4 linked regions of the Homo sapiens genome follow. The protein of the gene in region 3 interacts with the protein of the main gene of each other region in a pairwise test. Each region holds a gene or a part of one and is shown on either strand. Other genes may lie near its edges. The genes, in order: PPP2R3C, CERT1, RTN3 and RTN4.

The links.
Region 1: the proteins of RTN3 (region 3) and PPP2R3C interact in binary tests that used the Homo sapiens proteins (3 or more experiments, as listed by UniProt).
Region 2: the proteins of RTN3 (region 3) and CERT1 interact in binary tests that used the Homo sapiens proteins (3 or more experiments, as listed by UniProt).
Region 4: the proteins of RTN3 (region 3) and RTN4 interact in binary tests that used the Homo sapiens proteins (3 or more experiments, as listed by UniProt).

What each region holds. Positions count from the first base shown.
Region 1 is NC_000014.9:35,118,935-35,127,053, forward strand, and holds the start of PPP2R3C (serine/threonine-protein phosphatase 2A regulatory subunit B'' subunit gamma), read right to left. Parts: upstream 3,057-8,119; 5' UTR 3,026-3,056; coding exon 2,968-3,025; exon of another isoform or gene 2,905-2,967; intron 1,895-2,904; exon of another isoform or gene 1,893-1,894; intron 1-1,892. Other genes in the region: PRORP (mitochondrial ribonuclease P catalytic subunit isoform 1 precursor), read left to right, coding at 4,312-5,297, 7,801-7,848. UniProt on the Homo sapiens protein: May regulate MCM3AP phosphorylation through phosphatase recruitment. May act as a negative regulator of ABCB1 expression and function through the dephosphorylation of ABCB1 by TFPI2/PPP2R3C complex.
Region 2 is NC_000005.10:75,508,495-75,516,174, forward strand, and holds the start of CERT1 (ceramide transfer protein), read right to left. Parts: upstream 3,136-7,680; 5' UTR 3,012-3,135; coding exon of another isoform or gene 2,714-3,011; coding exon 2,618-2,713; intron 2,576-2,617; exon of another isoform or gene 2,280-2,575; intron 1-2,279. UniProt on the Homo sapiens protein: Shelters ceramides and diacylglycerol lipids inside its START domain and mediates the intracellular trafficking of ceramides and diacylglycerol lipids in a non-vesicular manner.
Region 3 is NC_000011.10:63,677,212-63,684,499, reverse strand, and holds the start of RTN3 (reticulon-3), read right to left. Parts: upstream 3,001-7,288; 5' UTR 2,864-3,000; coding exon 2,722-2,863; intron 1-2,721. UniProt on the Homo sapiens protein: May be involved in membrane trafficking in the early secretory pathway. Inhibits BACE1 activity and amyloid precursor protein processing. May induce caspase-8 cascade and apoptosis.
Region 4 is NC_000002.12:55,019,263-55,026,477, forward strand, and holds part of RTN4 (reticulon-4), read right to left. Parts: coding exon 5,824-7,215; intron 1-5,823. UniProt on the Homo sapiens protein: Required to induce the formation and stabilization of endoplasmic reticulum (ER) tubules. They regulate membrane morphogenesis in the ER by promoting tubular ER production.

The sequences.
Region 1 (8,119 bases), on a different chromosome or scaffold from region 3:
AGCCACTGCGCCCAGCCAAGTACAGGTAACTTCTTTGAGAAGTTTTCCTATGAAGAGTGCAGAGAAATGCAACAGAAGCTGGAGAGGGATGTGGGATCAAATGACTTTTTTTTTTTTTTTTGAGATGTAGTCTCGTTCTATCGCCCAGGCTGGAGAGCAGTGTCGTAATCTCAGCTCACCGCAACTTCTGCCTCCTGGGTTCAAGCGATTCTCCCGCTTCAGCCTCCCAAGTAGCTGGGATTACAGGTGTGCACCACTGCGCCCAGCTACTTTTTGTATTTTTAGTAGAGACGGACTTTCACCATGTTGGCCAGGCTGGTCTTGAACTCCTGACCTCAAGTGATCTGCCTACCTCGGCCTCCCGAAGTGTTGGGATTACAGGTGTAAGCCACAGTGCCCAGCCCAAATGAATTTTTTTTAAGACAGGGTCTGGCTCTTGTCACCCAGGCTGCAGTATAGTGTCATGATCATAGCTCACTGCAGCCCCAAACTCCTAGACTGAAACAACCCTCCCTGCTTCAGCCTCTCGAGTAGCTAGGACTACAGTGGTGCACAACCACCCGGGCTAATTTTTTACTTTCTATTTTTGTAGAAACGGTGTTTCACTATGTTGCCCAGGCTGGTCTCAAACTCCTGGCCTCAAGCGATCTTCCCATCTCGGCCTCCCAAAGTGCTGGGGTTACATGAATGAGCCACCGAGCCTCCCAACACCACTACCCCCGACCACCCACCTTTTAAAAAGATGGGTGATATTAACAGCACGTTTGTGCTGGTGTAAATGATCCAGCAGAAGGAAAATCTGATGATGTAGGAAAGAAAGGAGGAGGCTGGAAGGAAGTCAGTGAATACAGGGAAAAGAATGCAATCTAGTGGTGGACTGGAGGGACTCTTAAATAGGAGCATGGACAGTTCATCTTTTTTTTTTTTTTTTTTTGAGACGGAGTCTCGCTCTGTCGCCCAGGCTGGAGTGCAGTGGCACAATCTCCGGCTCACTACAACCTCCGCCTCCCGGGTTCACGCCATTCTCCTGCCTCAGCCTCCTGAGTAGCTGGGACTACAGGCGCCCGCCACCGCACCCGTCTAATTTTTTGTATTTTTAGTAGAGACGGGGTTTCACTGCGGTCTCAGTCTCCTGACCTCGTGATCCGCCCGCCTCGGCCTCCCAAAGTGCTGGGATTACAGGCTTGAGCCACCGCGCCCGGCATCAGTTCATCATTTTAACAGTGAAGCCAGAGTGTATGGGCAACTAACTGTGGGGTTGTGGGGCTGAAAGAAATGTTAAGGGGGACAGGTGATGTTCTCCTCTGACTGCTTCTCCTTTTTTTTTGAGACTGAGTGTCGCTCGGTCGCCCAGGCCGGAGTGCAGTGGCACAATCTCGGGCTCACTGCAAGCTCCGCCTCTCGGGTTGAAGGTATTCTCCTGCCTCAACCTCTGGAGTAGCTGGGACTATAGGCGCCCGCCACCACTACCGGGTAATTTTTTTGTATTTTTAGTAGAGACGGGGTTTCACCGTGTTAGCCAGGATGGTCTCGATCTGCTGACCTCGTGATCCGCCCGCCTCGGCCTCCCAAAGTGCTGGGATTACAGGACTGAGCGACCGCGCCCGGCCGACTGCTTCTCCTTTCTTAATGAGATATATATTAAAATACAAGTTCATCAGCTTAAAGTAAGAAGCGGGTAGGACAGACTGCAGGTGTAGGAGATGAGAAGAATAGTGTAAAAGAGTGTTGCCTGGGTGCGGCGGCTCACGTCTGTAATAGCAACACTTTGGGAGGTGGAGGTAGGAAGACTGCCTGAGGCCAGGAATTCGAGACCAGCCCAGGCAACATAGCAAGACCTCATCTCCACTAAAAATAAAAAATTAGCCGGGTGTGGTGGCGTGTGCCTGTACTTCTAGCTGCTCAAGAGGCTGGGGTGGGAAGATCCCTTGAGCCCAGGAAATCGAGGTTGCAGCAATACTTCACTGCGCCGCTGCACTCCAGCCTGGGCAACACAGGGAGATCCTGTATCGGAAAAAAAAAAGTGTATTTAGGAAAACACAGATTGGCAGTTTGGGAGATGAAAATTGAATGTAGGAGAATGAACGTCCAGGAAAACACGGTAGACATGACCAAAACACCTTCTTTAGATTAGTGGACTTGTATTAAAAGTGAGATAACTCGGCGGGGCGCGGTGACTCACGTCTGTAATTCCAGCACTTTGGGAGGCCGAGGTGGGCGAATCACAAGGTCAGGAGTTTGAGACCAGCCTGGCCAATATGGCGAAACCCCGTCTCTACTAGAAATACAAAAATTAACCGGCCGTGGTTGCGCGCGCTTATAGTTCCAGCTACTCCAGAGGCTGAGGCAGAAGAACCGCTTGAACCCGGGAGGCAGAGGTTGCAGTGAGCGGAGATGCTGCCACTGCACTCCAGCCAGCCTGGGCGACAGAGCAAGAGACTCCGTCTCAAAAAAAAAAGTGAGACAACTCACCAAGGTTCTGTTTTTCTCCAGCCACTTTCAACAGCCCTTAGTGCGGGTGTGGAATAGGAAAGGTAGATTTAACGAGGTTAGTTAATAAGCAATGTGAAGGAGAAAAATAAAAGGAAAAATGGATTATGAAATATAAAATGGATTACGAGGGAAGCAAAAAGCGTGACAGTAAAAAGGCAGGAGGACAATTATAGGTCCTGGTGGGGTTCAGGCGTTGTTGGAGCCGGGGTTCCAAGTTATTCTTCACAAGTTTAGATTAAGACCATGGAAGTCAGTGACTAAAGCTAAGTTTTTCGTTCCTCTAGATTCTGCCCCAGGAAAGTTTGGGTCAAACCTATCGGGATCCTTAAACCACATTCCACTCCGCCTCCTTTGTCGGGAGGTTTCACAGAAGCGGAAAAGGCGGCTCCCCCTTGCTCCTCCTCCCCACCTCCCCCCTACCTCTAGGAGTTTAGGGCCGGGCCATCCCAACGGGCTGCCCCTCCCAAAACTCACTGTTTGGACAGGTGTTGGGCGTCGCTAGGCGCCGACGAAGAACTTCTTTCCAGTCCATGGCCGACTTCCGCGCAGCAGCTTCTGCATTTGCTGTTTCCTACCTGCTCCACCCCTACCAGCTCAGGCGTCAGCACCGCCAGGCCCCGTAAAGGTTAGGAAGGCCGTCCAACCACCATCTTGATCGAGGGCGGAAGTCTTGGCTAAAGAGGCAAAAACAATTACTGTCACTGCCGCGGAGAATACCGCTACCACGCTGACTGGGGGAAAAAACTATGAAAGAGATGGAAAATGGTTCTCCTTCAGAGGCGACCCAAGCTCACCAAGCCGGATTTTAAAGGCCACGATAAGCCCGCGTTTTCCTTTATCGTGTGCCTTTGGCGCGTGCGCACCACGTGACCCAGGAGTTCATTAGTTCCGGCTTGAGGGAAGCGCCTTCTTTCACAATTTCTTTTCATTGTTCATTGCGGATATCTGGAAGCCTTCCAGGTCCCCTGAATGTAGTAGACACTTCAGCAGCCGTCTCCTACCCCTTTTGCCACTAAATGCTTCAAAACTGCCTTTTTTCCTCGCCGCCGGGCCAGGCGGAACGCCTAAGTCCGGGTCAGTCTCGTCCGTCGGTCGGGGCTGGCGCGGTGCATCGTGGGCACTGTAGTTTCCGCCGCGTTTATGGCCGCGTTAAGTCTGAGTGCCGCTTTGAGTTGTTGAATGAAGTGAACTTCATTTGTCAGCGTTCGGTACGCAGTCTAGGCAGCGCCCTTCCTGTACCTCTCTTCCTTTCCTGAGTCGTTGGCGCAGCTGACTCGCCACCTCCTCCCTCCTCGTCCCCCCACCGGAGGAGTTTTGCGGTCTGTAGAGAGCTATGCAGGGTGAGGGCCCCTAGACTTCGGCTTTCGCCGCTGTTGGTGGTAGGCTGGAGTTGGGGGTCCCTGGATACGGTTTTGGCTTTACACCCCCTTTCCAGCAAGCTTCCCGTGGGAATCTGTTCCTTTTCAGGACAGCTGTGATCCACGTGAGTAAAACTGGGCGTTCCGTCTTGTGCTTTTTCCTCAGGTTCATGAACTGGAATGTAAGAGGCACCAGAGGATTCCTGCTCTGTCCCCTGGTTTGCGGCTTGCGACGTTGGACATCCCCGGATTGTTGTTTAATAGAGAAAACTCACCTGCCTTCTTGCTTTTAAGTAGCCCCAAAAGCAGAACCTTGATTTGTCTGTAAGGAAGAAACACAAACCTTTTAAAAAGTTCCACTTCGACTCTGCACCGCCGACCCCCAATCTCTTTAATTTTGCCATAGAAGAGGGGTTTTTTCAACATCTCTCTCACTATCTGGTGCTGATCTCACTGCATAATGACTTTCTATTTGTTTGGTATTCGAAGCTTTCCGAAGCTTTGGAAGAGCCCATACCTTGGGCTAGGCCCAGGGCACTCTTATGTCTCGCTGTTTCTGGCAGACCGCTGTGGCATCAGGAACCAGCAGAGGTTGTTTTCTCTTAAAACAATGTCTCCACAGAATACCAAAGCAACGAATCTGATTGCCAAGGCCAGATATCTCAGGAAAGATGAGGGCAGTAATAAGCAAGTTTATTCTGTTCCTCATTTTTTTTTAGCTGGAGCAGCTAAGGAGAGATCACAGATGAATTCTCAAACTGAAGATCATGCCTTGGCACCTGTGAGGAACACTATTCAACTCCCAACACAACCTTTGAATTCAGAGGAGTGGGATAAACTTAAGGAAGATTTAAAAGAAAACACCGGAAAGACCAGTTTCGAAAGTTGGATCATTTCACAGATGGCTGGCTGTCATAGCTCTATAGATGTGGCTAAATCTCTGCTGGCATGGGTAGCAGCCAAAAATAATGGTATTGTAAGTTACGATTTACTGGTCAAGTATTTGTATCTCTGTGTCTTTCATATGCAGACATCTGAAGTTATTGATGTCTTTGAAATTATGAAAGCCAGATATAAGACTTTAGAACCTAGAGGTTACAGTCTTCTCATCCGGGGATTGATCCATTCAGACAGATGGAGAGAAGCATTGTTGCTGTTAGAGGACATCAAAAAAGTTATAACTCCTTCAAAAAAGAACTATAATGACTGTATCCAGGGAGCTCTCCTTCATCAAGATGTAAACACAGCTTGGAATTTATATCAGGAATTGCTAGGTCATGATATTGTTCCTATGTTGGAAACTTTAAAAGCTTTCTTTGATTTTGGAAAAGACATAAAGGATGATAACTATTCAAATAAACTACTAGATATTCTTTCATATCTAAGAAATAATCAGCTGTATCCAGGGGAGTCATTTGCACACAGTATAAAAACATGGTTTGAGAGGTAATTTTGGTTTTTTTATATGTATGTTTTTATTCTTTAATTTTTTTTTTTTTTGAGACAGGGTCTTGCTCTGTTGCCCAGACTGGAGTGCAGTGGTGTGTTCATAGCTCACTGTAACCTCAAACTCCTGGCCTCAAGTGATCCTCTCGCTTCAGTCTCCTCAGTAGCTAAAACCACAGGCATGTGCCACCATACCTGGCTAATTATTTTTAATTTAATAACTTTAAACCTCAAAGTAGCCATTCTTTTTTGTTGTTAGTTGCTGAGAATCACTCTTCTGATTATACTTTTTTCCATCTCTTAGTAAGATTTATTTTCTCTTTACGACAAAATTTTCTCTCTTTAAAAAAAGTAACAACATACATAATTTGTGCTAATCTTTACCCATCACATAAAACTGAAATTATATAGCAGTTTTAATTTTTACATTTTTTTCCTTTTGGAAGGATCATTAATTTTGTTTTCTTAGGCATCTAGTATGATGTGAGTACTTAATACTACTTATGGCCACTGTTCATAGCAAGAAAAGAATATAGCATTTGACTAGAACTGTCTCTGGCCATATTAGTATTTTCAGAAGTTCCTCTGAAATCTAGCGACTGAGATAATATGCTTATATTTATTCTGTCTACTCTCTCCCTTTTTTTTTTTTTTGAGACGGAGTTTTGCTCTTGTTGCCAGGCTAGAGTGCAATGGCATGATCTCGGCTCATTGTAACCTTTGCCTCCCGGGTTTTCTCCTGCCTCACACTCCCGAGTAGCTGGGATTACAGGCATGCGCCACCATGCCCTGCTAATTTTCTATTTTCTTTTTAGTAGAGACGGGGTTTCTCTATGTTGGTCAGGCTGCTCTCGAACTACCTCAGGTGATCCGCCTGCCTCGGCCTCCCAAAGTGCTGGGATTACAGGCGTGAACCACCGCGTCCGGCCTATTCTGTCTACTATCTATAGTTCATCAACTTGGATGATTAGAGTGGACAGGGGGATATTGATCAAGCCTTATACGTAAGCATTACAATGGAAAATCTTAACCCTTCCAGTTTGTTTTGGACCTTTCTATCATTTGGCTGCTGTCTCTCTAAAGCTCTCTCCTTTGGTTTGCTTTTGCTTTATTCATGTTACTGGGTACATACCTGTTTATTGCTTTAGTCTTTTTTAAAATTTTTGAAAATTTTTACTTATTTTTTAAAATTAATATTCTTTTTTTAAGAGGTGGGGTCTTGCTGTGTTGACCAGGCTGGACTCAAACTCTTGGCCTCAAGCGATCAGGTGTGAGCCACCATGCTTAGTCATTATTTCTTCATTAATTTGCTTCCTAAAAATTTGTTCCTTCCCTCTGTTTTTCTCTTGCCTTTTTTTCCCCTATATCATGTTTACGGAGCTTTGAAGCAGTAATTATGCTTAATTATCTTAAACTTACTGAAGATCAAGGGAGGAGGAGCCCATTTGTGAAAATCTTTGAATACCAAGGAGTTTGGATTTTATTCTGTTATCAAGAATGCTGGATTTGGCTGGGTGCTGTGGCTCACGCCTGTAATCTGAGCACTTTTAGAGACTGAGGTGGGAGGATAGCTTGAGGCCAGGAGTTGGAGACCAGCCTGGGCATGGTGAAACCCTGTCTCTACAAATAATACAAAAATTAGCTTGGCATGGCGGTGTGTGCCGGTAGTCCTAGCTACTTGGGAGGCTGAAGCAAGAGGATCACTTGAATCTAGGGAGTCAATCAAGGCTGCAGGGAGCTGTGATGGCGCCATGCACTCCAACCTGGGCGACAGAGCAAGACCTTGTCTCAAAAGAAAAAAATAATGCTGGAATGGAGTTTTACAAAGGCAGTTGCCAAGTGAGAAGAGTAGATAGGAGAGGGATTAAGATTGAAAACAGGGAGATCTGCGTGAATACAATTTTAGGTTTAGGTGAGAGATGATGAGAATTAAGAACTGAGGAAGGAGAGAAGGCAGTAGAATCATAAGAACTGATGGTAATATGTGGAAGGGGAAGGAGGAAAGGATACATTGATTGAACAAATACATCAATACATAGTTTTTGAATGCTTCCAAATAGGCTAGGCATTGCGAGTGTTTTATAAAATCTATTATGACATTCTCAATTTAATTGGGAATACAGTACCACACAGTGAAATAACAGTGGTGTGTAAGAGGTAAATTACTCTCGGCAGGAGCAATTTCTGGCAGCTTTATGGAGAAGGTAAGAGTTGAGTTTGGTTTAGAGGTTATGCTACTAAGGTCAGCCGCTTTTGGTAGACTTGAAGATGAGAGTTATTTGTTGGGAGGAGAACCACAGGGAAGAAGGAGATCCAGAGCAGAGTACCAGCAGCTTCTTAACCCCATCCAGGATAGCAGCCACTTTTTAAATTAAACCATTCTACAGAAGTATCTTGAACTTTTCGGACTTCTTGCTTATAAGAGTTTCCAAATACCATGAATATCTTTCATTTCAGTAGGAATCTAACCTTCTCATGATTTGGTTTTGCAATCTTTTCATAGTGTTCCTGGAAAACAATGGAAAGGACAATTCACCACAGTCCGAAAAAGGTGAAGACCAATGTTTATTTTTAACTTGTTTGATTTTGGTTTAGTAGGTTTTGTTGCTATTAATTGAAAAATATTTAAGAACACCTTAAGGGTAGGATAATTACAAGTTTGTAATTAGAGTATCTGAGGAAAAAAACATACTTTGCATACAGAGACTTAGCAGTGCCCAAAATGTTTTTCCTGTGAGTACTGTGAACCTATATGAAGTCTTAGAGATGTTTTTTCCCTAGAGGTTCCAGACCCAGTTGTGTTTTAGGATTTATTTATTTAT
Region 2 (7,680 bases), on a different chromosome or scaffold from region 3:
TTTACTCAGTAAGTATTAGCTGTATCATGACACCTGGAAGACAAGTTTTTTGTCTTTTCTCTGCTCTCATAATGTTCCCTCACTCTTCCCCATTTAACAAATACAGATAAGGCAATATGCTAGACACTGCAGGGGAATCAAATATTACTGTGGCCAACAGGCCAGCAGACACAAACTCAAGAGAAAAAAATATATATTTAGAATAAGAGTCAGAAGCAAGCTACAAACAAAATGCTATGGGAATTCAAGTGAAGGAGGTCTTGAATGATGGCAAAATAAGAAAAGGCTTTATGGAAAGGACAGTATTTGGCTTGGACTCTTAAGGATGGACAGAATTTCAAACAGTTTGGTGTGTGGAAAAACAGAAGGTAAACCATGAAGGATGGAGGAAATTCAGAAATTGAATGAGATTATTTTATCCAGGCTTAGGTGCTCTCAAGTCCTACTAAGGCATGCATCTTTTCCCCACCATGATCCATCACGATACTTGCTATAACTAGATAGAATTATTGTCTATCTAGTATTTTTGGAATCTATACACTTAAGTGATTTATAAGAAATATGCTTCATAGGTATTTCCATGTATTTCAGATTACCATATGGAAAATACCCTTTGAACTGGTATATTTCTAATATAAATTTACCCAAGCCCATTCCAAATCCACCCCATTTTGGGGGAGAAACAAAATGAATTGTACCGGGACTTATTTACATTACTCAATGGAAGGAAAAGAACAAAATCCGAGTTCTGACCTTTGTTTAAATTACCAGGTGAATACAAAGAATTCAAACTATATAATTTACATTTAAAAACATCTACCATACTCAGTATGAGTATATATACTCAATTTAGAATACCCTTGATTAAAAAGCTTCCAGAAAACTGTATATAACCATAAATTGGTAAATCTCAGGAAAATTTCCTTCATAGCTTTGAGCAAGAATACCAAAAGCTTTATTCCTATTCATTCTACATATGCAGCAACAGTCAAAATTTAAGCTATTCACCTTCCATAGAGGTGATCAAATACATTTGTATGCATTTAAATATCGAGATTGGTCTTCCATTTTTTTATCTATAGTATACCTACTCCAGAGCACTGGTTACTTTTTCCCCCGGTCACTCCACTCCCCCAACCCCCAAAAAAGTAATTATCAGTAGGTCAAAAGTACAATTTGTTTCGTAAAATACTTAACACATCACAATACTAATATGGCAGTCAGCTTCCCATCTTATGAGCAGTGATGAAACTACCAAAATCACTGAGAAGCAAGTAACCCACTTCCTATTACCAACTGAAAATGTATACCTACTACACAATGTGTTCAATAGAGATTCCTAAATTACAGGATACATTTAATCTAAAGAAATCCTGAGGAGCTTCTCGTTACTGAAAACCTTGCACTGAAATTTCAAGAATGATCACAGCATCAATATACAACATAATTTTGCTGCTATACAAATAAAAGTCAACACTTGCAATCCTTAGTTCTGACTACTCATGCCTTTCCTGGCCCCCTTCTCATTAGCTTTCTAGACATTATAAAAGCCTAATATGAAACAATTCCACAAATAATGTCCAAGTGATTTGCCAAATATGAATACTGGAAACAGGGTGATTTCTTAATAGCCACTGGCTGCACATGACATAGTATCTTATGACCAGCTTGTTGAGGGACTGGCCCAGCTCCCCCTCTCCAAGTTAACTGCTAGCTCCAGCCATGTCTAAAAAAGTTTAACAGGAAGGGAGAGAGAAGTCAAAAAGGCTACGTGAATCTTCTTACAGCAAAAACTTAAAAAAAAAATCCCCACAACTATGTAATATCAAGAGATCATCCACCTGCAGTCCTATAATGACTGCTTTGCTAAAATTTTGATACAGGGATTTTAAAAAATATATAAAAGATAAAACATCTTTTCCTTACCCTCGACCCCTTACCGCAAAAATATTTTATTATTAAGTAATGCTCTTCCTGGACTAAAGATCAGTCTCCATTCTCACATGTTCCAAGTTACTATGAATATTTCCTGTACCCATCATGTGCCGATTCAATATCTCTATTCTGAACTAAGGTACAGGGTGAGGGAGAAAGTCCTCCACATTCATCTGTCTCACTACATCTAACCTAGCAGAATTCAACACCTCAAATTTCAACACCAAGCTGAGTCGCTCCAGCTTCTGTCGAAAGAGTTGCGTCCGCAGTGCCCCCCAACCTACTCGGCTTGGCATCCTCAGAGAGACCAACCTCTTTTAAGAGGTCCGACTTGAACCGCTCCCATGCCCAGTCGTTCGGACACCGCTGAAGCCCAACCCGGATTCCTTACACCCGGGACAGCTGCCGCCCTAAGTCCCAAGTCACGGCGCGCATCTGGCCTCCCAAACTGGATCTCAGGTTTATACACCCTTTCCCTGGTCCTCGGCTGCCCCCGACGAGCCCCCGGGCAACAAGGACAGTGCCCCTATATCCCCGCCTCATCCCTAGTCGCTGCAGCAACACTCAGCCTCGCACCCCGGCACGTTCCGCGCCTCCCGCCAGCCCCACCCCACCGCCTCAGCGGATTGCCTCGCTGCAGGTGAGTCTGGCCAGGGGTCCCTTGGCACCAGGGGTTGCTCACCTTACTGAGGACCCCGCAGCGCTCCACAGGCGGCCCAGACTCCGTCTCTGGATCCTCCTCCGAGCCCGACGAGTTCCAGCTCTGATTATCCGACATGGAGGCTCGACAACCGAGCAGGAGACCGGCCCCCGCTCCCTCAGCTGCGCCGGAGGAGGCGCCCAGTCCTCGGGGTGAAGGGTCGGGGGATGGCGAAGCGAAGAGTGCCCGCTCCGGTGTGGGGGGGAGCAGGAGGAGGGACGAAGTCCGCCCGCCGCGCCGCCGCCGCGCCTGACACCGAGCGGAGCGAGGAAGGAGGACGAGCGGTGAAGGAAGCCTACCCTTCCAGCCGTCAGCCGCCGCCGCCGTCGCCGTGACCCCTGCGTTGCGCCCGGCGCTGCCACCCGAACTTAGCCCCCTCGATGCCAATTTCAAATAGGGAAGGAAAAGGGAAAAGAAGGGAAGAGAAAATCCGGCCGCTGAGTCCCGCGTCCACTCACACCTCCGCTACCGCCGCCATCTTCCTGCCTGGCCCACTATTTACCCTCCCCTCCCCTGTCCTTTCCCCTCCCCTTCGTCCTCCCATTCTCCCCCACTACTCCCCGCCCCGTCCCCCTCCCGGCGTCTGACGCGACACGCCGAGCCTTCGGGATCCTCCTCCCGAACCCTACCTCCGGCTCTCCCGGGTGACGACGGGTAGAAAAGCAGGAGGAGCGGAGAAAGGAGAGGGCGGGGTAGGGATGCAGCTGTGCTGCATTCTGGGAAGGGCGTTGGTCCGTCGCTCGCGCAGCCTCCTGGGAGTTGTAGTCGCGATCCTGAGGTAACGGGTGAGTATCCCGCGCGGGGATCGCTTGTCCCCTTGGGGCCTTGTCAGTCGGTGGGTGGGCTTCGTTTGACAGTTGCGTGACCAGCCCCTCGGCCTCGCTTCTATCCTTGCCTTGTGTGTTTATGACGAACCCTCCGGGCTTGCGGGCCCAGACGTGAGAGAGCTTTCCGCTGAAGATGACGGGCCTGCTTTCCAGGGCGGCTTGTCGAAAGCCCGGGAGCATCTGGCCGCTTCCGCCTCAACCATGGGCTGGGGTTTTGTGAGCTACTAGTGCCAAGGGTTTTCTTTCCACCAGACCACCGCTGTAAATCTCGAGGGTCTTACTCATTAGAAGTTAGAATTCACATTTGACGTTTAAAGGAAGAATTTCCTTAGTACCTTCTCACAAGCACGCACTTCGCATTTTTAGATTTCTAGAGTTTGCTTTGTAGAAAGTAATTTTGAGGTTGTCAGAGAATAAATGACGTTAGAAAGGTTTTTAAAGTAAAACAAGAATGTGAGATGATAGCCTGGGATTTTCTCTTGGTTGTAAATGAATATCTTACTGAGAACCACGTTAACCATGCCTGCCCCTCAAAGATAGGAAAGGTTGGATATATAGAAACTTTCTCGTATTAGAAATACCGAAGTGCAGTGGTTTTGTGTGTACAAGGGATTAGGCAATAGGAGGCTATTTTTGTTTTAAGACTAGGGTTGAATTAGCAGAAAGACCAATAGAAGATCTAACAACTCTTGTCAGTTGTCAAGGATAACTTTGATTATGAGACTTTGACTTTGTAGCTTCAGTAATTTCCTCTCGTTAGCTATTTTAATATAGTCGATTTCCTTGTAATTGCCAAGAGTAAAATTTGTTATTAAACCTTAGAAAGAGTACTTTCTTACTACAAGGATGGGACGATAGGAGCGAAATTTCGAGTCTAAGGGAAAACGCTGGCCGAGTGTGGTGGCTCACGCCTGTAATCCCAGCACTTCGGGAGGCCGAGGTGGGTGGATCACCTGAGGCCGGGAGTTTGAGACCAGCCTGGGCAACAAGGTAAAACCCCGTCTCTACTAAAAATACAAAGATTAGCCGAGCATGGTGGTAGGTGCCTGTAACTCCAGCTCTTTATATCCTGGTTTCAAATCTAGGCTTGATGACCTTCTCCCATATCCCAGTATCATATTTTTTTCTTCCTGCATGGGGGATTAATTACGATTCTGAATGGTTGGTAGCATGAAGCTAGGTTATCCCTATCGTGGCAATGGATATTTAAGTAGGCATTGCCAATATTTATCTTGCTTTCTTTTACTTTCTTCTTTTTCTGACCATCCACACTCCATTTATATTGATGAGTTCTTTTACTAATATCAATTATTATTATATTATGCTCATACTGCCATGTCTTATTCTGCAGCTTTGATCCTTAAGGTGACTTTGCATATCTGTCTAGGACTCCTTTATCTGTTGATTTTTACCATTTAAGTCTCCAAAGACAGCTGTATTTTTGGAAAAGTGGGAGGGAAGAGGTAGATGGGGATACTCATTGATACCTTAATGCACTTCACAGCTGCTTGAGAATATGTCAGATCTCATAAAAAGTTCTAACATTCGAGAATAAGACAGTGATTTCAGAAATGGAATTTCAAAGGGTGTGTAGGCCACCCTTTTTATCCTGTTTCCTATTGTAGAAATGAGAGCCAGGCTAGGAATGTTTCAAGCAGAAATATTCTTACTATTCAATGAAATTGAAAATGTATTCCCATATCTTTTACTCCTATCTGTTTGGTTTATGGGATAAAAACTTGTTAGAGTAGTTGGTATTTCATAGGCTTCACTATAACATTGGAAAATCTTTTAGTCTAAAAAGCACACAGTACGGTACACCAATGAACAGTATTAGTGCCCACTCTTGGCATGTACACATGTTCTTTCTGTCGTTTTTATTTTGCTTAGCTTTTGAGTCTCTTCCTGTTACTGTGAGAAATTCTTTTATTAATATTTTAAAGGCATACTATATAAAGCAGTGTGGTGGTATATTAGGTATCAGTAGAATCCTCTTGATAGTTATTTAGTAAACGTGTTTTGCTTCCTGTTTTTTTCTAACCTTTTTATTGTTTCACTTCTACTATAATTTCACATCCTTTTCTTCTTAGTCAAATAAGTTGAAAAAATATATTTTTATAGAACATGTTGCTATGGTGATAGTTTATGAAAATATACTTTATCCCTGTTTAAGATCTTTATTAAGATCTTGCTATATGATAATCTGACTGGGGTGCTATAAAAGTAAGATATAAACCACTTCTTCTGTAGATTCATTGTTTTCTAGCATTTTTCTGTCTAGGTATTCTGACAATAATTATGTGTAGAGAGTGAATAAATATTTAAAATTGTGTGTGACATAGGAGGTTTTCAGTAAATAATAACTGATGAATGAAATAAGTTTAACTTGGTTGATGATTGAAGAGAAGTTGTGGGAACTGCAATTAACAAGGCCCAAGAAAAAAATCACTAACATGATTAAAATTGGTCAGACACCAAAGAACCAAATAACATCATAGCCTTTTGTAAGTAGCAATTATCATTTGCCAAAGGCCTACAAAATGTCAAACATTGTTTTAGGTTCATTTGATTTATTCGCTCTTCACAAAAATCCTGCAAGGTAGACATTATTCTTACTTTACATATGAGGAAATTAACATTCAAAGAAGTTAATTGCCCAGATCATCGCTAGTGAATAGTCTAGTCCAGACTTTGGACCTTAGGCGCTTGCAATACATAACTTTTAATACATATAGAATTGATTTTAGATTTTAGAAAAGTCACTCAGGCATAATGGCACATATCTGTAGTCCTAGCTGCTCAGGGTGCTGAGGTGGCAGGCTAGCTTGACCCCAGAGGTTTGAGGCTGTAGTGAGCTGTGATCATGCCAGTGCACTCCAGTGTAGGTGACAAAGTGAGACCCTGTCTCAAAAAAAAAAAAATTCCAAAAAACTATTATCCCAAATTTTTTAAATGATTAAACATTTGAGAATCTGTCAGAGCCAGATAGATTACATTCTAGGTGTGTTACATAGTTTTTCTTTAGTTTAACAGTTTTCTTAAAAGAAAATTCATCCACATGCATTTTTAAGGTGCAGTAACATATAGCCAGTTTACAGCTCTTTTCTTGCTAGTGTACACTAGCAAATATATGTTCCAATTACGCATAAATAATTTAAATGATCTCTGGAGCCTCTTGCAACTATCCCCTTGTCTTGTGTTGCTACTAAAAGGAAAAACGTATTGATTTAACCTTTGGTATTATCAGGAAAAATAGTCATTGTCATTTACTATCATTTTATTTTTTGTATTTTTGGTCATTTTATGAATAGTCCTGAGAAGCAGCAATAAAGGGATAGTGGAAAAACAACTTTATTAGAAATTATAATAAAAATAAAAACATAGCAAACCCAAATTTTTATTCCATATATTCTTGAAATAGGGAGGCCTCAAGCAATCCTCCTGCCTTGGCCTCCCAAAGTGTTGAGATTTGATGTGAGCCAACATGCCAGGCCCAATATTCTTTTTTTATGGCTAAATTCCATTGTGTATATAGACCACATCTTCTTTATCCATTCATCCATTGATGGTTGATTCCATATTTTAGCTATTGTGAATAGTGCTGTAATAAACGTGTGAGTGCAGATATCTCTTCAATGTATTGATTTCCCTTTTGGATATATACGTAGTAGTAGAATTGCTAGATCATACAGTAGTTGTATTTTAAGTTTTCTGAGGAACCTCCATACTGTATTCCATAGTGACTGTACTAATTTACATTCCCACCAACAGTGTAGCAGGGTTCCCCTTTCTCCACATCCTTGCCACCATCCATTATTCTCTATCTTTTTAATAAAAGCCATTTTAGGCCGCCCATGGTGACTGAGGTGAGAGGATCACTTGAGCTGCTCAGGAGTTTAAAACTAGCGTGGGCAACGTAGTGAGACCTCGTCTCTAGTATAATAAAAAAAATTTTTTTTAAGCCATTTTGACTGGGGTAAGATGATAGCTCATTGTGGTTTTGATTTGCATTTCTATGATGATTAGTGATGTTGAACATTTTTTTAATTTACCTGTTGGCCATTAGTATGCCTTATTTTGAGAAATGTCTATTCTTTTGCCCATTTTTAAATAAGATTATTTTTCTTTTATTGAGTTGTTTGAGCTCCTTATATATTCTGGTTACTAATCCCTTGTCAGATGGATAGTTTGCAGACATTTTCTCCTGTTCTGTGGGTT
Region 3 (7,288 bases):
CCAACATGGCAAAACCCCATCTCTACCAAAGATATAAAAATTAACCAGGTGTGGGCCGTGTGTGGTGGCTCATGCCTGTATTCCCAGCATTTTGGGAGGCCGAGGTGGGCGGATCACGAGGTCAGGAGATCAAGACCATCCTGGCTAACACTGTGAAACCCTGTTTCTACTAAAAATACAAAAAATTAGCCGGGCATGGTGGTGGGCACCTGTAGTCCCAGCTACTGGGAAGCTGAGGCAGGAGAATGGCATGAACCTGGGAGATGGAGGTTGCAGTGAGCTGAGATCGCACCACTGCACTCCAGCCTGGGCGACAAAGCGAGACTCCGTCTCAAAAAAAAAACCAAAAAAAAAAAAAAAAAAAAAAAAACCAAAAGAAAATTAACCACGCGTGGTGGCACACGCCTGTAATTCCAGCTACTCGGGTGGCTGAAGCATGAGAATCATTTGAACCCCGGAGATGGAGGTTGCAGTGAGCCAAGATGGCTCCACTGCACTCCAGTCTGTGACAGAGCAAGACCTTGTCTAAAAAAAAAAAAAAAAAAAAAAAAAAAAAGAAAGAAAAGAAAAGAGAAAGAAATAACGAGTGGAAACCGCGGCATTTAATATTATTCGGAAAATGTAATGCAAACTCATGTACTTGGAACAGCACTTCACGATATAATTCTACTACTTTCGACAAAACACATAATTTCAGCACCTTTTCCACTATTATAAAGAGAAGTGCAAAAAATACACAATAAATAGATAAAAATTGTGACAAGGGTAGATGACATAAAAAAAGGTAAGCCAAACAGAAATATGTTATGTCATTAAATTCGTATTGCCAATTTAGGTGCCAATTAGGTTGTGGTATGCCTGTGTGTCTGTGAACAAAATACTCTTATTTCATTGGCCTACTAGGCCAGTTCTTCCATAAGTGCATTAAAAGAATGAAAAAGTTGAATCTCAAATGATTTCACCATTTAGTTATAAACAAACTAGGACTAAATTTTCAAATCTGCTAACTAAAATGACTCTTCAACACTTAACATCTGTCTTATCTTGAGCTTACAGAGCCAAATTTCTAAAACTTAGGTCTGAATCAAAAATGAAAAATCAAGAAAACCCAAAAGGTAAGTACAAAAGGGCCTACCAAACAGTAAGCAATGACAAGTGATTAAAGCAAAAAGATCAAGTTGCTAAGTTATAAGGAAGTCGCTGTTCATCTGGACCTTAGCCCAGAACACAAAAATTTGGAGAAAAGGCTGGTGGTTTAAAGGAGACAGGGTTCTAAATTTGCTGCCTCATTCTTTTATCTGCAAAAGCTTCCTGATACTGCCTGTTTCTACTGAAATGGCCATAACCACACTGAAAAAATCCAACAGGGCTCCAAAGCTCTCAGACAGGTGAAAATTCACTGCTAGAAAAACACGTAGAGAATAATACATTTAAGGTTAAGATCAGAAATTTTTTCTTTAGAACCCAAGATTCTGCCAAAGGAGACAACGAAGCATTAAAAAAAAATGATCAAAATCCTTTAACATAACTAAATAGAGAGCAAAATTATCTCTACTCTCCCGAATTTACGGCCCTGCCTTTGACAAAAGGCATTTTTTTTCCCTTCAAAGACTCCGTTCCTTTGAGAACTACCACCTGCCCATGGTGGTTTTTTTTTCCCCCCTTAAGAAGGCATCTGCACTGCAGATTTCTGCATAAGGGGAGCTTGCCAGGCAGCTCTTACCAGCAGGCAGACGCGTATACAATGCAAACTAAAGGAGGTCTGCAGCTTCGTTCTTAGTCTTTCACAGAGATGGGAGAAGGGGACTCAACCAGCCCTTGCTTTGTCTGAATGTTCTCCCCCTCCCCCTTTCTGCAATAAACACCCCCCTTTGTTATACTTCGATCAATAGTAGCCCACAGAAAACATGAAATCAAAACATGTTGATAGCTTAGCATGACTCTATTTTCTAGAATATAAGCGACTGATTGCGTGTCCCCACCCCCACGCAGCGCCAGGGAAGAGCAGGCTGTTGCAGATGCAGCCACGGATCCATCTTGGACCATTAGCAGCTCCCTCCCAAATCTTCCCTGAGCTATTCTCATCACGCCTCCTTCTACCTCGGAGCCTCAGAAAAATCCGGCATTCATGGAGTCTAGCCGAAAACAGTAAAAACAAAACAAACAAACAAAAAAAACAGGCTACAATGCTTCCATTAAACTTCCTCATCCTTCCCATGGGCAGCCAAAAATATTTTGGAGGACTATCATGAATGCTTGATTATGTCAACACCTGTCTGCAAACCTGCAATGCAACCCTTTCACCACCATCCCCTCAAAAATAGTAACAAATTGTTTCTCCCACCACCCACCTGCCCGTATCCTTTCAATCTCTCTAATCCTCACTAAATCACCCAGGTTCACCATATGCATCGAGCAACTCTCCATTTTATCCCACGAGCTGGTATTTTTCCCCACCTGCCCAGTCTTGGCGTTAACGCCCACTGGACTATCTCCCCGCCCCCAACCTGTTTTCCTCACACCCCGCTATTTCCTCACCGCCTGCACAACCTTACGTTCCCCTTCCCCTTTGCCCATTTTCCAAACGCTCGTCCCCGGGGGGCTGAAGCCGTCAGTAGTCGAGGGTAATTCGTCCTCCTCCCGCCTCGCCTCCTAATCCCCCCAGCCCCCAGGCTCCCGCTCGCCCTCTTTCCCAGGGCGGGGGCTCCCCGCGCGCCTTACCCGCACAGGAGGAGCTGCAGCTCTTCGTCCCCAGGGCGGGGCAGGCTCCTGGGCTCCCGCCGCCGCCGGGCGCGGACGGCTCGGCTCCGAAGGACGACGAGGAGATGGAATGGGACTGAGTGGCCGCCGACGGCTCCGCCATGGCTACGCGAGCGAGGGTGGGAGAAGGGTGAAAAGAGATACGGGGCGGGAGAGAGGGAGGGGAAATAGAATAATCCGGCAACTGGCTCGCTCAAGTCCCTTTACTCCGCCTGCTCCGAGGACAGACTCCGACAGACTGACTGACTCAGCCGAGCGCAGCTAGAGGGCGGGAGCGCGAGCGCGCATGCGCACAAAGGGCCCCAAGCGGGTGCCAAAGCGCGCAGCGGCGCAGGGCGCAGGCGCAAGAACCGCTCCTCTGCGCTCTTGCAGGGAAGGAGGGGCAAAGCCGGCCTCACGCGGCGCCTCGCGCGCCGAGGGTTGGGGAGCGTCCCTTGGGGACCAGACGCAAAAGGCGTATCCAAGCCCCAATCCCCGCCCACGACTGCGGCTAATCGTGGAGCTGCGGGATAGTATTCCCTCCTGCCTCTTTATGTGAATGTTTTAGGGTCGGCAGATTATGTATTTTAACGGTAGAAATGTCTTTGGGCTTCCATTATGGAAACTCTCTTTCCCGTACATTCCAGAGCCTATATCTTTTGTTTGATGCATTCCCACCTGTGACTCCAATAAAAACTGAAAACCAGAGTGTAGAGTAGGCCCACTCTGCAAGGTGCTTTGTGAATCTCACTGGCTGTGTCGTAATATCTCCTCACCGAGAGGCAGAGATGGCACGGCCCCCCATTTGGTAGGTGGAGAAAGATGCTATACAGAATGAAAAACGATTACTCATTCCAATCACATTGCAATGCAGTCGCAGAACCTGCTTCGTATTCTTATCTCGTTACTGTTGCCAGAGAAGGGTCCACCTTGGGTCTTAAGGTTCTCTTTTCCTCCGAATAGACTGTCAGATAGAGACGACATATTTTAGAGAGGGAAAAAAAATGCTGAGCTGATGAAGAAGAGCCAGGAGATAAGAAAATGTTGGCTGTGATTATGGGGGATGATAAAATTAGATATTAAAAATTCAGAATAAGGCCGCAGTCAGTGGCAGAGGCCCGTAGTCTCTGCTACGGCAGAGAAGGGAGGATCACTTGAGCCCAGGAGTTGGAGTCCAGCCTGGGCCACACAGCGAGAACCTTCCTGCCTTAAAAAAAAAAAAAAAAGTAAAAAAAATCAGAATAAGGCACAAAATACACATAATTGAATTTTATTCATAGACTAAAAGAGGTCCTTAGCAGAACATGTATTTAAAACCAGATTTCTAGCCTATATTGGATTTTGTTCATTTTTTGCTTTTCCTGGGCTGGATTGCCAAATTCGAAGCCTTCTCCCTACATCTGGTCAAAATATTGGAAAGGTGCATAGTCTTTGTTAAAGGAGGACTGTTGGCTGGGCGCGGTGGCTCACACCTGTAATCCCAGCACTTTGGGAGGCCGAGGCAGGTGGATCATCTGATGTCAGGAGTTCAAGAACAGCCTGGCCAATGTGGTGAAACCCTGTCTCTACTAAAAATACAAAAATTAGCTGGGGGTAGTGGCGGGCGCCTGTAATCCCAACTACTCGGGAGGCTGAGGCAGGAGAATTGCTTGAACTCGGGAGGCAGAGGTTGCAGTGAGCAGAGATCTCACCATTGCACTCCAGCTTGGGTGAAAGAGCAAATCTCCGTCAAATAAAAAAAAAAAAAGGAGGACTGTATCCTGGAAATAATAAAAATCAAGGCTGTCGACTGTTACTGCTAAAGCAGCAATCGATGACCCAAAGTACAATTGCAGGATCAGCAGATCCTGTAAAGATGCAGCCTCATGAAGCGGGAGGTGGTCAGCCAAGCTGCCACTGAGGGGAAAGGCGATCTGACCAGTGGAAATCTTCTAGAACAAGCTGTGTACTACATCTGCCCTTGAGTTTTTAAGGTCAGGTAAAGCCCCAGGGGGTGGGAGGATGACTCCTGGCCTTTGCAATGCTCTGAAAAAGGCATAGAAAAATATTTCCCAAAATAACTTTGTGGCTAATACCTTACCCTGGCACTTACTGCATCAGCTGATAATGCAGCAAACTGTCTCTTGGATGGCAAAGGGAAATAATAGCAGATCGGATAACCAAGCCAGTTATCTACCCATTCTGATACGTGCATATGTTTTTTTAAAAATCGCATTATTAGGGGAGCTGTTTTCTTCTTCCTTCCTTCTTTCTTGTCTATTAAACGCTCTGCTCCTTAAAACAAAACAAACAAACAAAAATCTACATTATTAAGTGCTAGATAAGGAAATAAATGATGCTGGTAGCTAACTCTGACAGCACTTGCTACAATCTGGAGACTCCAGCTGGAAGGAAGTCCATTTTCCTAATATGTAGCAGCAGAGAAGTTAAAAAGCAAGATATGCACGTGGTCTTACTGGTCTTTTCAGACCCTTCAGACATTTTTTTTTTTGAGATGGAGTCTTGCTCTATTGCCCAGGCTGGAGTGCAGTAGTGCCATCTTGGCTCACTGCAACCTCCGCCTCCCGGGTTCAAGCAGTTCTGGTTCAGCCTCCTGAGTAGCTGGGATTACAGGCACATGCCTCCATGTCCGGCTAATTTTTGTATTTTTAGTAGAGGCGGGGTTTCACCATGTTGGCCAGGGTGGTCTTGAACTCCTGACCTCGGGTGATCCTCCTGCCTCAGTTTCCCACACCTGGGATTATAGGCGTGAGCCACTGTGCCCGGCCAGTTCTATGAATGTGTATTGATCATGTGCTGTGTGTATAACACAATTCTGGGAACTTTGAAGAGACCTCCAAAATATGTTAGTCTTGTCTTCAATGAGCTTACAAGCTAGTTAGGACAAAAAACATACTCACATAAAGTTAAATAATATAAATTAAATAGCAACTAAAAACAACCCCAAACACCATAAAACCATAGTGCTTTGATTAGATGGCAAGTAAATTAAATGAATTTAAAAGAGAGGGGCCAGGCGCAGTGGCTCACGCCTGTAATCCCAGCACTTTGGGAGGGCAAGGTAGGCGGATCACCTGAGGTCAAAAGTTTGAGACTAGTCTGGCCAACATGGAGAAACCCCATCTCTACTGAAAATACAAAATTACCCAGGCATAGTGGTGTGTACCTGTAATCCCAGCTACTCGGGAGGCTGAGGCACGAGAATCACCTGAGCCTGGGAGGCAGAGGTTGCAATGAGCCAAGATCATGCCACTGCACTCCAGCCTGGGCAACACAGTGAGACTCCACCTCAAACAAAAACAAAAACAAAAACAAAAACAACGAGGGGAAGGAATTACCATGAAGTTGTAGTGGCTTAGGGAGGTTTTTTTTTTTTTTCTGTCACCCAGGCTGGAGTGCAGTGGTGCGATCTCGGCTCACTGCAACCTCTGCCTCCCAGGTTTAAGTGATTCTCCTGCCTCAGCCTCCCGAGTAGCTGGGACTACAGGTGCGTGCCACCGTGCCTGGCTAATTTTTTGTATTTTTAGTAGAGACGGGGTTTCACTGTGTTAGCCAGGATGGTCTCGATGTCCTGACCTCGTGATCTGCCTGCCTCGGCCTCCCAAAGTGCTGGGATTACAGGCGTGAGCCACTGCGCCCAGCCAGGAGGTTTTGTGAAGATGCTCAAAGTTAGATAGGTGTTTGGAATTGTAAGGAAGTCATTAAAAGCAGAAAAGGATGGTATGAAGCAAATACAGGGGTTGCTTTTGTGAATGTATACAAAAAAAGTACTCTTCTGGGCAGATGAATCACAAAAAAGAACCTCTTTCTCCCAGCCCCACCCATGATACAGTTCCATGCTGATTTGGCTAGCAGAACCTCACCTAGATTTGATCCCCTCTTGCCCCTTGTCTCCACAAGCTGCCTTGGTGTAACACTCAGACTGTACAGCCATATGTGGTGGCTAAAGGCTCAGACGTGAGCGTGTATAAGGTGTCTTGGGTGTTGGTTAGACCAAATTGGCTGGAGCTGAAGGCTTGAATTAGGACAGGAGGGAAGATATAGGGATAACATCTAAAATGAGGAAGATATGTTGGGGCCAGTTTTTGGAGAAGCAGTAGTATTGAACCAAAGAACTGAGGCTTTGTCTTAAGAATAATGGGGATTGAGTGGAAGTTTTTGGTGGGAAATGGCTCAGCTGGGATTTTTTTTTTCCTTTTTTTTGTCCAAGATGGGATTTTTTTTTTTTTTGAGATGGAGTCTCACTCTGTCACCCAGGCTGGAGTGCAGTGGCATGATCTCAGCTGACTGCACCCTCCACCTCCTGGGTTCAAGTGATTCTTCTGCCTCAGCTTCCCGAGTAGCTGGGACTACAGGCCCATGCCACCATGCCTGGCTAATTTTTATATTTTTAGTAGAGACGAGGTTTCACCATGTTGGCTAGGCTGGTCTTGTACTCCTGACCTCGTGATCTGCCTGCCTCAGCCTCCCAAAGTCCTGGGATTACAGGCGTGAGCCACCGCGCCCGGCCCAAGATGGAATTTTTAAAGTGCTCCCTGGCTGTCATGGT
Region 4 (7,215 bases), on a different chromosome or scaffold from region 3:
TACTGGAGTTAAAATCATTTTTCAACTCTCATGGTAAAGACTGGATCAAGCAAGAATCATCAATGGTTTACTAAATTGGAGGGGCGAATTTTGATAGGGAGCAGGATATCTGCATGTGTTCAAGTGTCACTCCTCAGACTGCTTATCATCTGCAAGGGAGAAACAAAGACAATATAAGGAAATCAGAGCTCATCTTGCCCAGACGGTCAAAATTAACATAACCAGTGAGGGACTGATGAATAGCAGATAACTCTAGAAGTGGTGCTATGAGAGGGACACATCATCATCTATACAGTATCATAAATGAACCCATAGCCTCAAATTAATCACTAGGAAACATCGGACAAATCCACTAGGAGGAATGTTCTATTATAAAGTCGGGGGAAGAGAGGCCCTGTGTTCTTTAAAACTGCTAATGTCATAACAAATAAATAAAGACTGAAATGGGAAGTCCTACCCAGAGCAATTGAGCAAGAGAGAAATAAAGGATATCCAAATTAGAAAAGAGGAAGTCACATTGTCCCTGTTTGCAGATGACATGATCTTATATAAAGAAAAACCTAAAGACTACCAAAAACTTGTAAATTCTGTAAAGTTGCAGGATATAAAATCAATAACAAAAATATCGCATGTCTTTACACAAACAACAAACTAGCTGAAAAAGAAATCAAGTAGGAAACTCCATTTGCAATAGCTTAAAAAAAAATACCTCAGAATAAGTTTAACCAAGGAGGTGAAAGACTTCTACGAGGAAATCTACAAAACAATGATGAAAGAAATTGAAGAGGATACAAACAAATGCAAAGAAAGACATTCCATGTTCATGAATCATAAGAGTTAACATTGTTAAAAAATGGCCGTAATATCCAAAGCAGTCTACAGATTCAATGCAATCCCTAATAAAATACCAATGACCTTCTTCACAGGAATAGGAAAAAAAATCCTAAAATCTGTATGGAACCACAAGACTCCAAAAAGCAAAAGCAATCCTGAACAAAAATAAAGCTGGCGGAATCACACTACTAAATTTCAAAATATACTACACAGCTATAGTAACCAAAACAGCATGGTACTGGCATAAAAACAGAAACACAGACCAATGGAACAGAACAGATAACCCAGAAATTAATTAACATATCTATAGCCAATCAATTTTTGGAAAAAAAAAAATGCCAAGAACATTCATTGGGGAAATGCCAAGAACATTCATTGATACTACTACTGAGAAAAAAAATCAGTATTTACATTCCAATAGTAAGAATATAGTTTGTCACAAATTTCTTTGTAAATGGAGGGGGAGGAAGACCAGAATTCATTAGTTTCTTGACAAACTTTACTTCCCAAAATTAATAAAGCACCATCTGCATCACAATACCTTATTCATCTCTCTTGCAAAATCAATCTTTCTTCCCAAAACTAAAACTGATTTCTGCCTACAAAATGTCATTTTAAGAAAACAAGAACAGGAAAGTCCTGGAGGCTCACACCTGTAATCCCAGCACTTTGGGAGGCAGAGGCGGGAGGATCCTTGAACACAGGAGTTTGAGACCAGCCTAGGCAACAAGGCAAGACCTCCTCTCTACAAAAATAATTAGCCAGGCATAGTGACACGAGCCTTTGGTCCCAGCTACTTGGGAGGCTGAGGACCACCTGACCCTGGGAGGTTGAGGCTGCAGTGAGCCATAATCTCACCACTGCACTTCAGCCTGGGCGACACAGCAAGAACCTGTCTCGAAAAAAGAAAAGAAGAACATATGAGATAATAAATGATCTGAGGAAATTAGTATTTTATTATTTAATAGTTTAAATGTTTAAATGCATATACATTAATAAGACCCAGAATTTTTTTAAAAACACACTTAAATATTTCATAATTAGAGATGGCATAAAACTTTTAAGTCATCTGAGAAGAGAGCTTCCCTTATGTTTTATCAGACCACTGCTGTATTTTGGTACATTTGACTTCAGTACACTTGAACCTCCCTTTCACGAAGATACACAGGTAAGTACCTATCCTCACTATAACATAGATCACAATGTTTAACTATGTCCTCAACAGTGTGTCTGTACCAGCTGGCTGTAAGTTGCATAAAGCGCAAAACTTTGTCTTAGTTTCATCTTTTTCCCTGCCCCCCCCGCCAAAAAAAAATCTCATATAGTGCCTGATAGAAGCATGTTAAAGCAACTCTTACCTGCTTTTACACTTTTTTTTTTTTTTGTCTTTTTTTTCTCCCTTTTTTGTGGAGAACGGAGTCTCACTATATTGCCCAGGCAGGTCTCGAACTCCTGGGCTCAAGCTATCCTCCCACCTCTCCCTCCCTGAAAGCTGGGATTACAGGCGTAAGCCATTGTGACTGGCCACTACTTACCTGCTTTTAACAGATGCCTGTTATATAATCAAGTCAAGAAAATTATTAAGTTGCAAGGACTTGAGCTAATCCACCCTTCCTTTTATAGAAAAGGAAAATGACATCTAGAGAAACAAAGTGATTGTCAGTGGTATAGCCAAGACTAAAACCTCAGGTCACCTATATTGTTTTCATTATAGCAATACTGGGTTTCCTTCCCACAACTTTTGTAGAATATATATATTGGGTGTATCTAAATAATTCTCTATTCCCTAGTAAGTTGCTATGATAACTAATATCAAAAAAGGTTAAGTCAAAAAGGCAGGAAATAACAATTTTCTCAGAGAAGGGAGATAAACATATTCTAAAAGAGAATGCCCAAGCATTGCTTACACTTTCTTCCACCATTCCCATTAAGCTTTCAAAGGCAATGCCCCCTTTTCTTCCCTTACTTCTAAACTATTAGGCTATAGATTTCCCAGGTTTAACAAAAACAATCCAAGAAATAGGTGACTCCTGAAATACTGAAATTCCTAAGGGCCACCATCTACTAGAGGACTGCTAGCTTTAAGTTTTGGGAGGAAGCACTAGCGGGGAGGGGAGACTTCAAAGGTGTTGCTACACCGATTACTCCTTGCTCTTCACCCAGTCATCACCAAGCTGCTCTGGGCTTCTGAGACCCTTCTTTCTACTGTTCCCTCCTAAACCATTTTACTGTGCTGTTTGAAACCCCCATTCCACTGTGAACCAGCTCCTCTACTCCTCAACATCTTTACTGAACATTCCTGCCTTTACCTCGCCTTCACTAAAACCTGGCTGTTCCTTGAAGATACTGGTTTCCCTGTGGAACTTGCTAAATGAAGGCTAAATCGTTCTCTCATATTCTACACACCTAAGGGAGGAGTGGGGAGGTCAGTACCCTCTGCTCACCAATGCTGCTTCCAGACTTTTATTTCAGAGACCTTGGGCAAAAGTCTTGGCTATTCCGCTACGTCATTCTCTGTCCTTCCTCATTTCTTCTACCTACCATCCTGCCAGTTACCTCACTGCCCTTTACCAAGGACTCTAACCCCAGTATTCCTCTCCACCCCTAGTCCTGCCATCACCCTGGGTGACTTCAATGTTAGGTAGAAGTGCAATACAGTATCATGGCCTCATAGTTTACTTGACCTCACCTCTAGCAATCTTAATCTGACTACACAGTAGGCCTTTGCCTGATGGCCTAACACTGGCCATTATAATCAACCTGAACTGCTATTCCTCTGAAATTCTAAATTCAACATCCAACACACACACACACACACACACACACACACACACCCTGCTCTCCCGCACATGCATTCTTTCTCTCCCCTACTTTGACCACAATCTCCTATCATTCTGGCATGTATTTATTCCTACTACTATTGGTTCTTAAACCTAATCTGGGCCTTGAGTTCACTGACCATCTACTCTCCTCCTACCTCTCCTACCTTTTTCTATTCACATCCTTCAACTTAGATGCCACAGTCCATCACTTCAAATTACTCTCCTGCTATCACCCTCAACTTTCTTGACTTACTGTCCTTCCACAGGGCCCACCTGCCAAAACACATCCTTGAATCAATACAATCATTTGCCTTCCCTGAACCCATACCTAGGTTGTTTGGCACAATCAAAGAAAAGTCACCCTACCATTTAGACCACCTTTCAACCTTGATTAGGCTCCTAATACAATGCCTTTGGTTTCCCTAGTCAGAGGTATTGCAGATCTCTTCCACCCAAGCATGATCTACTTCATTCCCAGCAAATGAACTAACATACTGCTTTAAAGAACAAACATAAACCATCAAATAATTCCCTCAACTTTCAGTCACAAAACCCTAACAGTATCAATACCCCATACTTTCCTTTCCACTCACTACAATCAAAGCTCTATCGTTCCTTCTCTCTAACACTAATTCTTCCACCTGAACTAGGCAGCACATCCCCATCCCCTTCTGACTTTCTGCCAGCACCTGTAATCAGATTTTCCCCTTCCCACCTTAAAAAAAAAGTCCTACCTCCACTGCATACTCTCCTTCCTGCTTGCTAATATTTTAATTTTTCTCCAATAAAAATCTCAAACTTCTTAAGAGTAATCAACATTTAATAACCACTTACTCAAGTCTCATTCACTTCTCAATCCTAGCCATGCCCATGCACACCACACCATTTGCCGCTGTCATGACAATATCTTCCCTCCTTTTTGACCAACTTGCAATCCTTAACTGACCTCTCCAGTATTTGATAATTTTGACCATTTCTTCCACCTTCAAGTAGTCCTCTTCTCTTGATTCTTCCTAATTGGTATCTGGGGCTTTAATTTCTATCTCTAAGCCCATGACAGACACATACAGCCAAGATCTCTCTCAAGAGCTTCATGTGTATAATATCCATAACTTACTGGATATCTTAGAGGTATGTACATCAATACCAACATATCCAAAACCAAATTTGTATCTTCCCTCTTAAACCTACTTTAATCTCTCATGTTCCCTATCTCAGTTTCTCATACTGCCACCCATACAAGTGCACATGCCAGAAATGAAATCCAGGGTTCCTGGGGTCATCTTTACCTCTTCCCCTCATCCTTTATGTCCCTATCCGTCAAACACCAAGTCCTATGTCTCTGTGCTCATCCCACTGCCTGAATGTTCATAATCTCCTCTTTCTTAGATTACAGCAACTGGTCTACCACTGTTCCAATGGTGATGAGCTGGACTGTACTGCTGAAGCACCAGCACTTAAATACATAAGTATATTCAGTAAATTTATCATAATCACTATTTTAGAGAAAACGCAGCTAAATCAGAATGCTAATAAAGAGCACATGTGCAAATCACCTTGTGCAAATCACCTTATGCAAATCAGGTATGTGGAAAATGGATAGTCAAAAGAAAAAAAGGAGAATCGGTACTTTTCAAAAGAATTCATAATAGCATAACTCATTTTATACTTTTCAACAAAATGTCTACACTCAATATGCCTAACTTTATACCTACCACTGGAAAAGTACTATATTATATAGAAATATTTAAAACATACTATAGAAATTTTCTTTAAAAATTAAATATGGTAATTTCTGGGATAACAAAAACACATCTGAAAATATTTTAATATCTCTTGCTCTTCATGTTATCAAGAAACACAAGTGAAAAAAGAAAGAAAGAAAGAAATAGGTACTAAAGCCAATTCTTATAAACAAAAATATTTTCTATTAATAGTTCCATAGTGCAATATAAAAGTGTAACTGTGTGGAAAAGTTAAGGGTGAATGCTGAGTGCAAGAGAGTTAGAAAAAGCACTAAAACCTTTAACTGAAAAAGTGGAGAAGACTTCTTACCAATGTGACATATGAGACACTATAAACATAATATAAAACACAAAATGTAGTGGAATGTTCCCTAAATCCAAAAGTGGCATGAAAGCACAAAACTGCATATAGATTGGATTACCTGAAGTTTTACTCAGCTCTGCTGAAAATATAGCAGATGGTGATCTGTCCTCTTTTTCTGTATCGGAAGGAAGTTTTTTCTCAGCTTCTTTCACAAGAACTTTGGGTTTAACTATGCTCTCTATCTCTGCTTGAGTGGCCAAAGCAGAAACATCTGGAGGCAATAAGAGCACCTTTGATGTAGCAGACCCATTTTTAGAAAAGTCATCTGAGAAACTGATTTTCTCTTCAACTTTGGGTTGTATGTTCTTCAAAGAAAGGTCATGGGGCAATTCTGTGCAAGGCAATGACCCAGCTCCATCCGGGGCATTAGCAATTTCACTTTTGTGGGATACTTCTAGGTCAGTATATTCCCTGGCTAATTTAGAAAATGAATCAGTTTTAGAACTGATCAATGTAGGGAACTCATCTATAATTTCAATTGGAGATGAATCTGAAAACGTTTCAGTTTCTCTTATCTGTGCTTCCTTAGAAATAAATAAGTCATCATTTGAATAAACTGCAGTACTGAGCTCCTCCATCTGCAAAGGAATTTTCTCCTTTTTGCTCAATGTTGAAACTTCATCAGGTAACAGGGTATCTTTTGTGTTATCTAAACTGAGCTTAAAAGATTCCAAATATGGCTTTCCTCCCTCAGGTGGCAAAGCACTGAGTTTTTCCTTATTTTCATATTCTATCATTGACTCAAATGAAGTCTCAGTGAGACTTTCTTTCACAAGCATCACAGTTTCATCTTGTTTTTGTGGAACGTCAGGTATTGAATCATCACTAAATAAGTCAACTGGTTCAGAATCAGGTGAGGAATCTTCAACTAGCTCAGAATGATCAGGCACTGGCTGTTCAACTTTTGCCATTTCTGAATAATCAGAGAAATCCGGAGCTGGTTCAGCAGAAAGCTTTGTTTCTTTAATTAAATCACATGCAATAGATATATAAGGAGCTTCTGTTTCTTGAAGAGCTGCATTAATATTTTCAGGCTCTTTAATTTCTTCCTTTATTCCTGATACTTTTTTTAGTGATACACTCATGGCCTCTTCATATGGTGGGGGGTTTTCAGGCTCATGTTTTATGCTTTCATAATTAACTGAAGAAGCTTCTAATGGTGATGAGCTGGGCTGTATCACGGAAGCACCAGCACTAGGAACTGCAGAATTCAATGGTGCTTCCATAACAATGTCAGGCAAAACTGGTGAAGGAGTAGCTTCTGACTCTTCAAATGATGGGCAAAGCTGTGCTGCAGGATAGAGTGACTCTTGCATAACTTCTGATGTTTGAACCAAGTCCATTTTTGTTTCATAAGCAATCTTTGTACCAGTAACTTCATTCAATTCACTTTCACATGCTTCCTGTACTAAATCTGGAGTCAGGCCTTCAGGCATGTTTGCCACGACTT